Linked DNA regions of Homo sapiens. The protein of the gene in region 1 interacts with the protein of each later gene in a pairwise test. Each region holds a gene or a part of one and is shown in the gene's direction. Other genes may lie near its edges.

What was found.
Region 2: the proteins of PPP1R7 (region 1) and MAPK6 interact in a two-hybrid assay, tested with the Homo sapiens proteins (one large-scale study listed by BioGRID and IntAct).
Region 3: the proteins of PPP1R7 (region 1) and TAB1 interact in a two-hybrid assay, tested with the Homo sapiens proteins (one large-scale study listed by BioGRID and IntAct).

What each region holds. Positions count from the first base shown.
Region 1 is NC_000002.12:241,156,913-241,160,561, forward strand, and holds part of PPP1R7 (protein phosphatase 1 regulatory subunit 7), read left to right. Parts: intron 1-894; coding exon 895-950; intron 951-1,571; coding exon 1,572-1,637; intron 1,638-2,300; coding exon 2,301-2,431; intron 2,432-3,419; coding exon 3,420-3,582; intron 3,583-3,649. UniProt on the Homo sapiens protein: Regulatory subunit of protein phosphatase 1.
Region 2 is NC_000015.10:52,025,677-52,029,325, forward strand, and holds part of MAPK6 (mitogen-activated protein kinase 6), read left to right. Parts: intron 1-1,962; exon of another isoform or gene 1,963-2,197; intron 2,198-3,649. UniProt on the Homo sapiens protein: Atypical MAPK protein. Phosphorylates microtubule-associated protein 2 (MAP2) and MAPKAPK5.
Region 3 is NC_000022.11:39,402,780-39,406,428, forward strand, and holds part of TAB1 (TGF-beta-activated kinase 1 and MAP3K7-binding protein 1), read left to right. Parts: intron 1-3,649. UniProt on the Homo sapiens protein: Key adapter protein that plays an essential role in JNK and NF-kappa-B activation and proinflammatory cytokines production in response to stimulation with TLRs and cytokines.

The sequences.
Region 1 (3,649 bases):
GTGCATGCGTGTGTCTGTGTAGTGTGCATACGTGCCTGTGTGTCTTTGTGCATGCGTGTGTGTGTGCATCTGTGTGTGTCTTAGTCCTTTTCAGCACACATGCTGAAGTAGGTTCCAATGAAATGAAATGAGGAAGTGCTTAACAGGGAAGCTGTCGCCTCAGCAGGGAGAGCAGCTCTCTCCCTCCTCCGCACAGAGGATGCCGGCTCCGGGGTAGAGAGTCCTCGTGAAATCCAATGGGCTTCTCTGCTGGAGTGAGTTCACCAGTCTCCCCACTGAGAAGTGTGTTTAAATTATTCAGTGAGCTTCTTTGATCCTATCTGTTGAACTATGTTTTGTTTTGTTTTGCTCTTTGCAGAGGGAAGTGTTTGTAGATGCTGGGCCACCTTCCAAAGCAATAAAAGGCCCATCCTAGAGCATCTGATGTGCCCAGCATGGTCTAGATTCTAATGGCCTGGTTTATTGCCACAAACAAAAAGAGAAAAGCTACATGGGAGGCAGGCTGCTGCCAGTTCTGCAGCTCTGGGAGTCACGGAAAGGCAGTAGTGCTACCCTGCTCACCTGCACTCAGCTACTTCCTCCCCTCCTTCCCACTAACAGGTTCAAAACACATTTCCTTTCTCAGGAAGTTCAAAGGCACAGATGGATGTTTGGTGACCTTTGCCAATATCTGAATTCAGGAAATTCAGAATGCTTAAAACATCACTATTGTTGGAGCAGGGTCTAACCCTGCCACATTCTCCAGGTCCTCAGCAAACCTTCCCATTGGTTCCTCCTCGGGGTTTGAGCTGGCTCTGGGCACCAAACAGCCCCAGACCTCAGCCAGAAGCAGCTCTTCACCAGTGCCTCCTGTTAATGGGGTTCTGAACAAATCTCTTTTTCTTATTTTTTCAGAAGAACATGAGCTGCCTGTGGACATGGAAACCATCAACCTGGACAGAGATGCAGAGGTAATGCCGCCTGCTCAGCCCAGCCTTGGGCGTGGTGATGGACCACCCTGTCAGGTTATCTTGTATGAGATTAGTAAGTTATTTCCCTAGAGAGGTGGCCTAAGCCTCCCTTGGTTGAGTCAGAGTCCCGTGTTCATGTTTTTCTTACCAGTGATTGTTATCCCCATGTCTATTCGACCCTTGAGGATTGTGTGGCAGATGAGATGCCTTTGACTCATACATTGTCTGGGTCTGATGATTACATTATACATGAGGGTCCCAATGGCCCCAGGCTGTGTATGACTGGCCACTGGGCCTCCTGAGCCCACAGCGTGTCTCTGATGGTGATGGGATGGGGTGCATATCCTCAGAACCTGAGCTTATGTTTTGTGCATACAGGATCTAAGGAATGAGAAAAAGATGTCATGTACCAATCATTTTAAGGGCCAGTTTTACATAAAACTTAGTCATCACTAAGCCAAAGAGCCCCCGCAGCACACCTTGTCACTGACATCTGTCTGCTGCAGACCCACCTGGCACTGCCTCCCCCACTGCTGCCCACTTCCAGGCCGCCTCTTCTAGGACGACACAGGTCTCCAGCCACTTTGCTATAGCTGAGTATAGATTTCTGCTTTGTTTCAGGATGTTGATTTGAATCACTATCGCATAGGGAAGATTGAAGGATTTGAGGTACTGAAGAAAGTGAAGGTGAGAGGGACTCTTATGAGGGGACTATGACGCTCACCCATAGGATGTGGATAAGTCCAGAATCGAGCAGTCAGTCCTGAGTTGTGGTCCTTGTCCCAGCCTGTGGGCGGCGTGGCTGCCTCCACCTTGTAGCAGGCCTTTCTTTACTGGGAGCACAGCAGGTGTGAGACAGCAGTCGAGGGACTTGAGGCACAGCCCTGGGGCTGGCTCTCCTGAGCCCAGGCAGCCAGTGACCTGTGACTCTGGCCTGCCTCGGTTTCTGTGCCTGTGTTCAATTAGGCACTCGCTGACTTTTACAGTCCTCCGTGCCTCTCATTGGAATTTGTCAAAATTGAGCCCACCAAAGGTTCTTATGTTCTGCCAGGAAGTGGCAGACACCCACACCCCAGGCCAACGCCTCCCTCCCCAACTGGCCTGCTTGGTGGGGAGCCTGCCTCCTGCCTCCCTTTGGGTTCCCGCCCTTCCTCAGGTGTGTTAAGGAATTATAGCTTAGTGCCCTTGCCCACCTGCCTCTCAAAGGTCAGCACCTTTCTAGGAAACAGCAGGAGAATGAAGACATGTCCTTCTACCAGAAAGGCCTTTCTTGTGTCCTCCAGTATCAGCTGAGGCCTTCTCGTGGCCTCCCCCTTGCCTGTGTCAATTGTCCCTTTTCCCATCCCCCAGACTCTCTGCCTCCGCCAAAATTTAATTAAATGCATTGAGAATCTGGAGGAGCTACAGAGTCTTCGAGAGCTGGATCTTTACGACAACCAGATCAAGAAGATTGAGAATCTGGAGGCGCTAACAGAGCTGGAGTGAGTCATGAGACCCACAGGAGAACAGCATGGTGGGAAGGCCACTGGGTGGGGGGTGTCCAGTCTCCAGAGCCAACCTCCTGCTGGCTCTTAGCCCTTGAGAGGCTGCCTCTGCCACAGGGTCCTGCCCTGCATCTGAATCCCAAGTCTCTGCCTCCTGTTTTCAGGGCTCCAGGAGGCCTCATCGGCTTCATGCATGTCTTTGGCTTCCTGAACAATCCTGACTTCCAAAGTAAATCTTTGATGGGAAGGCTGCAGTGGGGACTTCTGGAAAGCCTCCATTCAGGGATGATACTGAGATCGGTAGAGAGGAAAGTTAATCCAGAATTGCCTCTTGCCTTTTGAATACTCTTTTTTTTAATTACAAAAAAAAGTGACATTTCTAATTTAAGGAGTCAGGTCCTAGGCCAGGTGCAGTGGTGCATACCTGTAATCTCAGTGCTTTGGGAGGCCAAATTGGGAGGATCACTTGAGCCTAGAAGTTCGAGATAGCCTGGGCAACATAACAAGACCCTGTCTACAAAAATTAAAATTAAAATTAAAAAAGAAGGAGCCAGGTCCTAGTTATAACTTTACCTGGATTTCTGCCCTTTGTCGCTCATTCATTTTTGCTTGTTTTGTTTCTGTTTCTAATTCAATACTTCTCAGGCCCCTTCTGTGTGCAGAGCCTGGTGTGAGGTCCTGTCATGGGCACAAGTGTGAACAAAACATAGTTTCTGCCTCAAATACCATACTGGGAGCCAGGGCATCAGGAGCCTGTAGGCTGCCTCTGGCTTGCTCCGGGCTCCTGGGCAGCCTCCAAATCCCTCATGACAGCATCAGTGTGAGCCAGGCGGCAGCAGGGGCACAGTCAGAACCCCCCACCCTCTCCCACCCGGTAGTGACTGCCGTCCCCTGATGGGGACGCCACCTTTAGTGGTTAAATTGTGAGTTCTATGCAACCTATGCTCGTGAAATTTTTTTAAAAAACTGTTTTGGTTGTTCTCAGGATTCTAGATATTTCTTTTAATCTGCTGAGAAACATCGAAGGGGTTGACAAGTTGACACGACTGAAAAAACTCTTCTTGGTCAACAATAAAATCAGTAAAATTGAGAACTTAAGCAACTTACATCAACTACAGATGCTAGAGCTGGGATCTAACCGCATCCGGGTAGGTGCAGACAGCCCTGACTAGTATATTCAGGGAGAGGCAGCTAGCGGGCTGTGTGTGGACTCAG
Region 2 (3,649 bases), on another chromosome or scaffold:
GTCCCAGCTGCTTGGGAGGCTGAGGCAGGAGAATGGCATGAACCCAGGAGGCGGAGCTTGCAGTGAGCGCCACTGCACTCCAGTCTGGGTGACAGAGCAAGACTACGTCTCAAAAAAAAATAAAAATAGTTGGATGTAGCTGGTGGTTACATGGACAGCACAGATCTAGATGATCTTTGCCCACTCTAAAATCTAAGCTGTAATTTAATAACTGGTTAGACTCAGTTTAATAATTGTCCTTTCTTAATGTACAAATTGGAGAGAGAGTATGTTGACTTAGTTTTTCTAATATGCCCAGATATTATTTCAGTATGTATTATAAAACAGTGCTGATTTTCTAATTGATACATCTGTGTTCAATAAAGTAGATAATCTAAGTTGTAAGCAAGTCAGTTTCTTTCCATCTTAACAGGTATTTTCACTTGAATTTTTAAAAAGTAGCTATTAAGTTTTCCTTAGTTATCCTGTGGAAAGCATTGGCAGGATAGTTTTTGCCTCTGGCCTAGTCCCTCTAGGCTTGTTGGCACTTGTTGATTACTTCCAGATTGATCTGCTGTTTATGTTAATTCCAGGTACCGAAACAGTGGTTCTTAACCTCCTACCTTTTTTTGTTTTGTTGTTGTCGTTGTTTTGAGACGGAGTTTTGCTCTTATTGTTCAGGTTGGAGTGCAATGGTGTGATCTTCGCTCACTGCAGCCTCCGCCTCCTGGGTTCAAGTGATTCTCCTGCTGCAGCCTCCCAAGTAGCTGGGATTACAGGCATGCACCACCACGCCCAGCTAATTTTATGTTTTTAGTAGAGATGGGGTTTCAACCATGTTGGCCAGGCTGGTCTTGAACTCCTGACCTCAAGTGATCCACCCGTCTCGGCCTCCCAAAGTGCAGGGATTACAGGCGTGAGCCACCGTGCCTGGCCTTAACCTCCCACCTTATGCAGTGGGAAGATTCTAACCCTATAGTCACAGGCCTATGTCCAAATCTTGGCATTTACTGTGTGTGTAAAGAGCATCAGTGCTCTTGTTTGTAAAATGACATTTACAAGACTGTAGTTTGAGATGAGAGAAATAATTTGTCATTTAGAAAATGCCTGTCATGGCTGGGCGCGATGGCTCATGCCTGTAATCTCAGCACTTTGGGAGGCCGAGGCAGGCGGATCACAAAGTCAGGAGTTCTAGACTAGCCTGGCCAACATGATGAAAACCCGTCTTTACTAAAATACAAAAAATTAGCTGAGTATGGTGGTGCATACCTGTACTCCCAGCTACTCTGAAGGCCCAGGCAGGAGAATCGCTTGAACCCAGGAGGCGGAGGTTGCAGTGAGCCGAGATCACACCATTGCACTCCAGCCTGGGCGACAGAGCAATACTCTGTCTTGAAAAAAGAAAATGCCTGTCACAGCCGGGCGCGGTGGCTAATGCCTGTAATCCCAGGACTTTGGGAGGCCGAGGCGGGCGGATCACAAGGTCAGGAGTTCAAGACCAGCCTGGCCAGCGTGGTGAAACCCCATCTCTACTAAAAATACGAAAAAACTGGCCATGGTAGCGTATGCCTGTAATCCCAGCTACTCGGGAGGCTGAGACAGAAAAATTGCTTGAACCCAGCAGGCGGAGCTTGCAGTGAGCCGAGATCGTGCCACTGTACTCCAGGCTGGGTGACAGAGCGAGACTCCCTCTCAAAAAAAAAAAAAAAAAAAGAAAATGCCTGTCACATAATAGGTCCTTAGTAGATGTAAGTTACCTACCCTCCCCCTCCTGCTTGGATTTTATAGCCCTCTGTAATTGAGTTTTATGCTTAAGATTCCAATCAGGCTTAATACATATTCTGAGTCTTCATCTCTACCCGTTACTGTAATTTCATGCCTTGCTTTGTTCATGTTGTATCCCATGTAGATTGTGCCATTTGTGCTCTGGATGTCTTCTCTTGACTTTTTTTTTAATCTTAATTTTTTTTTTTTTTTTTATAGGCGGGGTCTCCCTGTGTTGCCCAGGCTGGGCTCAAGCAATCATCCTGACTCGGCCTCAAAAAGTGCTGGGATTACAGGCATGAGCCACTCTGCTCAGCCTGTTGATTTCTCTTTATTTATTTATTTATTTATTTATTTATTTACTGTTTTTTGAGATGGAGTCTCACTCTGTTGGCCAGGTTGGAGTGCAGTGGCACGATCTTGGCTCACTGCAGCCTCTGCGTCCCAGATTCAGGTGATTCTTCTGCCTCAGCCTCTTGAGTAGTTGGGACTGCAGGTGCCCACCACCACGCCCGGCTAATTTTTGTATTTTTTTTTTTTTTTTTTTTTTTTGAGACGGAGTCTCGCTCTGTTGCCCAGGCGGAGTGCAGTGGTGCGATCTCAGCTCACTGCAAGCTCTGCCTCCCAGGTTCACGCCATTCTTCTGCCTCAGCTTTCCGAGTAGCTGGGACTACAGGCGCCTGCCACCACGCCCGGCTAATTTTTTGTATTTTTAGTAGAGACAGGGTTTCACCGTGTTAGCCAGGATGGTCTCGATCTCCTGACCTTGTGATCCGCCCGCCTCGGCCTCCCAAAGTGCTGGGATTACAGGTGTGAACCACCGCGCCCGGCAATTTTTGTATTTTTAGTAGAGACGGATTCGTCTCTGTGTTGACCAGGCTGGTCTTGAACTACTGACCTCAAGTGATTCATCTGCCTTGGCCTCCCAAAGTGCTGGGATTACAGGAGTGAGCCATCGCACCCTGCCAGCCTGTTGACTTCTTAAGGACTTACCTCGTTCTTGCCTACATCATGAATTTTTCCCTTTCTGGATTATCTTTATTAATATGCAGATGTGCTTTAGGGCTGTACTGTCCAGTATGGTAGCTACTAATCAATAGTGCTTTCTGCAATGAAATGTGTGGCTGTTAAAAGAAAAATTTAAAAAATTTAGGTCCTCAGTGATGCTAGTCATATTTCAGTTGTTCAGTAGCCATATATGGTGCTAATGGCTGCTCTATTGGACAGTGCAGATATAGAACATCCCTATCATTGCAGACAACACTATTGGACAGCACTAAGTGTGGCTTCCTTGTTTATAAGCCCTCTCGCCATTCCACATTATTCTCTAGCTACAGCCTCATTTCTCTGATTCTCTTCCAAGCCAGTTTTCAAAAGTTGTCTTTTTGTGCTCTCTCCACTTCCCTTTGCTTCTCAGCCTACTACAGATTGGCCTCCATTCTTACCACTAAAACTACTCTAGTCAAGGTTGCCAGTGGTTTCTATTTACTAAATTAGTCTTACAGGCTCTTGTAGGAGCATTCAATATAGTTGACCACTGTTTTCGGCCTATTCATCTACTTCTCATTTTATGAGACATATGTTCTTGTTTTCCTTCTACTTTACACCTTGTTATACTGTATGCTTTTTTTTGTTTCTGAGACGGAGTCTCGCTGTCGTCCAGGTTGGAGTGCAGTGGCGCAATATTGGCTCACTGCAACCTCCATCTACTGGGTTCAAGTGATTATCCTGCCTCAGCCTCCCCAGTAGCTGGGATTACAGGCGCACACCACCACGCCTGGCTAATTTTTGTATTTTTAGTAGAGATGGGGTTTCACCATGTTGGTCAGGCTGGTCTCGGAACTCCTGACCTCAGCCTCCTTATTACAGGCATAAGCCACTGCACCTAGCTTTGTTTTTTTTTAAT
Region 3 (3,649 bases), on another chromosome or scaffold:
GGCCTCAAGCAATCCGCCTGCCTGGGCCTCCCAAAGTGCTAGGATTACAGGTGTGAGCCACTGTGCCCGGCCACAAAGAGGTTCTAAGGAGAGCTTGATGTGTTCAAAAGGACCCAGACCTTTCAGCCGGATAAAACAGTGTTAGTCTCATACTGGCTTTGGGCAAATCACTTTATGTCCCTGAGCCTTAGTTTCTCCAAACCAAGAGGACTCTGGGGAGTATTGTTGGTGTTAAAGGAACTGACACATTCCACTACTAGCCTGGCTTGGTTGCCCGCTAACCAGAAACTTCTACCTTCAGTGCTGCCGTGAGTGAATGCTGTTCATTCCCTTAAATGTCCCTGAGCACTCACTATGTGCTAGGCACCCTGCAGGTGCAGGAGACACCGCCTTTGTGGAGCTGATGGTCTAGTAAAGGGGACAGACAGTGAGCACCGAACAGATACAGATCATCTGTGATTTTGTAATATCCAAACTACAGCATCAGGTGGTGCTATGAGGAACAGTCTAGATTCACACACAGAATGTTGGGGGTGCCATTTTGGACAGGGTGGTAAGGGAAGACTTCTCCACATTTGATGAGATGAAAACGGGGAAATGGGGGCAGCATTCCTGCCCAAGGGAGCAGGAGATGCAAAGGCTGCTGTTTCAGGAGCCTCAGGGGTGCTGGTGCAGCTGGGTGGAGTGCCTTGGGGGAGCTTGGGAGTAGCTGAGGTCTGAGGGAGCCGGGGGCCATGCTGGGCTTCACAGGTCCTGATGTGGCCTCTGGATTCCATTCTTCATGTGATGTGAAGCTTTCATGGGGAGCAGATTGAGTAGGGACCTGATGTGATGTGACTTTTGATTGGAGAAAAATCCCTCTTTTTTTTTTTTTTTTGAGACGGAGTCTCGCTCTGTTGCCCAGGCTGGAGTGCAGTGGCGCAATCTCAGCTCACTGCAAGCTCCGCCTCCCAGGTTCACGCCATTCTCCTGCCTCAGCCTCCCAAGTAGCTGGGACTACAGGCACCCACCACCACACCCAGCTAACTTTTTGTATTTTTTTTTTTAGTAGAGACGGGGTTTCACCGTGTTAGCCAGGATGGTCTCGATCTCCTGACCTCGTGATCTGCCAGCCTCGGCCTCCCAAAGTGCTGGGATTACAGGCGTGAGCCACCGTGCCCGGCCGAAAAATCCCTCTTTTGAGTTTGAGTGGTGAGAGTGGAAGCCTGGGACCTCCTAAGAGACTCCTAGAGTCATCCAGGTGCGAGAAGGTGTCTTGGCCATGGGGATGGCAGAAGAATGGTGGGAAGTATCAGATTCCAGTTGTGTTTTGGAGGAAGAGCTCATGTGATTTGCTGATGGATTGAATGTGAGGTGTGTGACAGAGGAAGAAGAGTCAAAAAGGACTCTTAAGGTTTTGGTTTAAACAACAGTGGTGCCATTTACGGGGTGAGGGAGCCCTGGAAGAGGGGCACCCTGGGGCAGGGGGAATCAAGAGTTTGATTTTGCCTGTACTGTTACTTAATTATAAAAAAGAAAATCAGGCTAGGCATGGTGGCTCATGCCTGGAATCCCAGCCCTTTGGGAGGCTGAGGCAGGAGGATCACTTGAGGCCAGGAGTTCCAGATCAGCTCGGGCAACATAGTGAGATTCAGTCTTTAAAAAAATTAGTGAGGCATGGTGGTATGTGCCTGTAGTACTTAGGAGACTTAATGGGGTGATTGCCTGAGCCCAGAAGTTTGAGGTTGTAGTGAGGCTATGATCCCCTCACTGCACTCCAGGCTGGGTGACACAGCAAGACCTGTTTAAAAAAAAAAAAAGAAAGTAAGCTTAAAATCAATTTTTTAAACTTCGACATGTCCTGAGCAATTATATCTGAGATCATAGGTGCTGCTATCTGTGTAATTTATCTAAAGGATGTTAAAATAAATACATAGCCACTAAAATAAAAAGGTCCATGGGGGTACCACCTATACCCATTGCATACACCCAGCTGCTGCCCTAGCACATTGGAAGTGCCAACAATGATTATTAGCCCCTTTAAGAATGAATGAGGAGCTCTTTAGGATGACGACATGGAGAACCTTCAATGAAAACTCCGGTGGGAGAAGTGGGGGCCAGGAGTGGAGCTGGTCTCAGAGAAGTGGGTCATCCGGAAGGTTGGAGGTGGTGGGGGCATTGGGGCCTTGGAAGCTTTTTGGAGAGAAAGGTCTGCTGCTCCCCTGCTCCGAGCCCTCTTCCTGGGGTTGTGAGTCTCCCTTTCTGAGCTTCCTTTTTGCTTCTAAGGAATGTGGGTGCTTTTACCACAAAAACACTTGGCCTTTTCATAGCATAATTTGGTATTCAAGCTGTGGCCTGAGCTTGGAACCATTCTTTGTCCATTTCTGCTGCCCAGGACTTTGAGATGAGTCTGTGTGGGTACTTTGTGAACTATTATGTGACATGGACACATATATACATGAGGAGTGAATGCTTACATCATGCACAGGGTGTTTGTAAAGGCCTTGTTGGGTTAAATACTGTTGGATCACTGTAGAAGCTTTTCATACCGAAACATTAATTTTGGAAACTCCTTCACAAAATCAAATCAAAATTAGGTCTTTTGAAACAGGCTTCTTAACGTATTCTTGTGAAATTTCTCATGAGCAGTTCATTTCTCAGACATGGAAGAGTTAAGTCCTGCGTTCGCTGTTGTGTGTGTTGCAGTGGCTCCGCGATGAGGCTGTGCTGAGTGAGAGACGCCCCCTTCTCAGCTTCTCGCAGACTCTTGCTCCCTGCGCTCCAGCGCCGCTCACGGCTGGTGCTGGCAGGCCTGGCATTTGGGGGCGTGGGAGAAAGTATGCATCAGTGTGTGCAGGGGTGGAGGGGTGGGTGGTTTGTGTGAATAGAAAGTACATGACCTTTCTGAAAATTGTTCAGAAATGTGGAGGAAGGAAGCGAGAGACTTGGCAGTCCTGTAGGCTTTAATGGAATCAGCAATGGACGCTCGGTATGGCTAATCCTCGATGGAGATGGAAAGGGACGGGAGAACACGATCCAAGCCTACTCAGCTGCAGCAGCGTGAGTCCGCTGGGGAACACGGAGAAGACCAGATACTCTCACTCCCACTTGGTAGAACCTCCTGAGGTTCTCCGGCCACTGTAGTGAACCAGTGTCTGGCGAGCGCCCGAATTACGTGAGAAACTGCCCATGTGTCATTGGATCTAAGACACCAATGTTTTAAGGACACGTCAGTGTTTTGTCTATTGCTCAGAAAGAGAACTCACAGCTAATTAACTTGTAACATACCAACTCCAGAGACGTTAACATGTGGAAAATGTAGGTCTTCAAATCAGTGAAATAAGGTAATCTAATTAACAATACCAGGCTATAGCACAATGGTTGCCACAGGGCCACTTTGGGAGGCCAAGGCGTGTGGATCACAAGGTCAGGAGTTCAAGACCAGCCTGGCCAAGATGGTGAAACCACGTCTCTACTAAAAATACAAAAAATTAGCCGGGCATGGTGGCACGCACCTGTAATCCCAGCTACTCCAGAGGCTGAGGCAGAGAATTGCTTAAACCTGGAGGGGCAGAGCTTGCAGTGAGCCAAGATCGCGCCACTGCACTCCAGCCTGGGCGACAGAGTGAGACTGTCACCAAAAAAAAAAAAAAAAAAAAAGGAATCATTT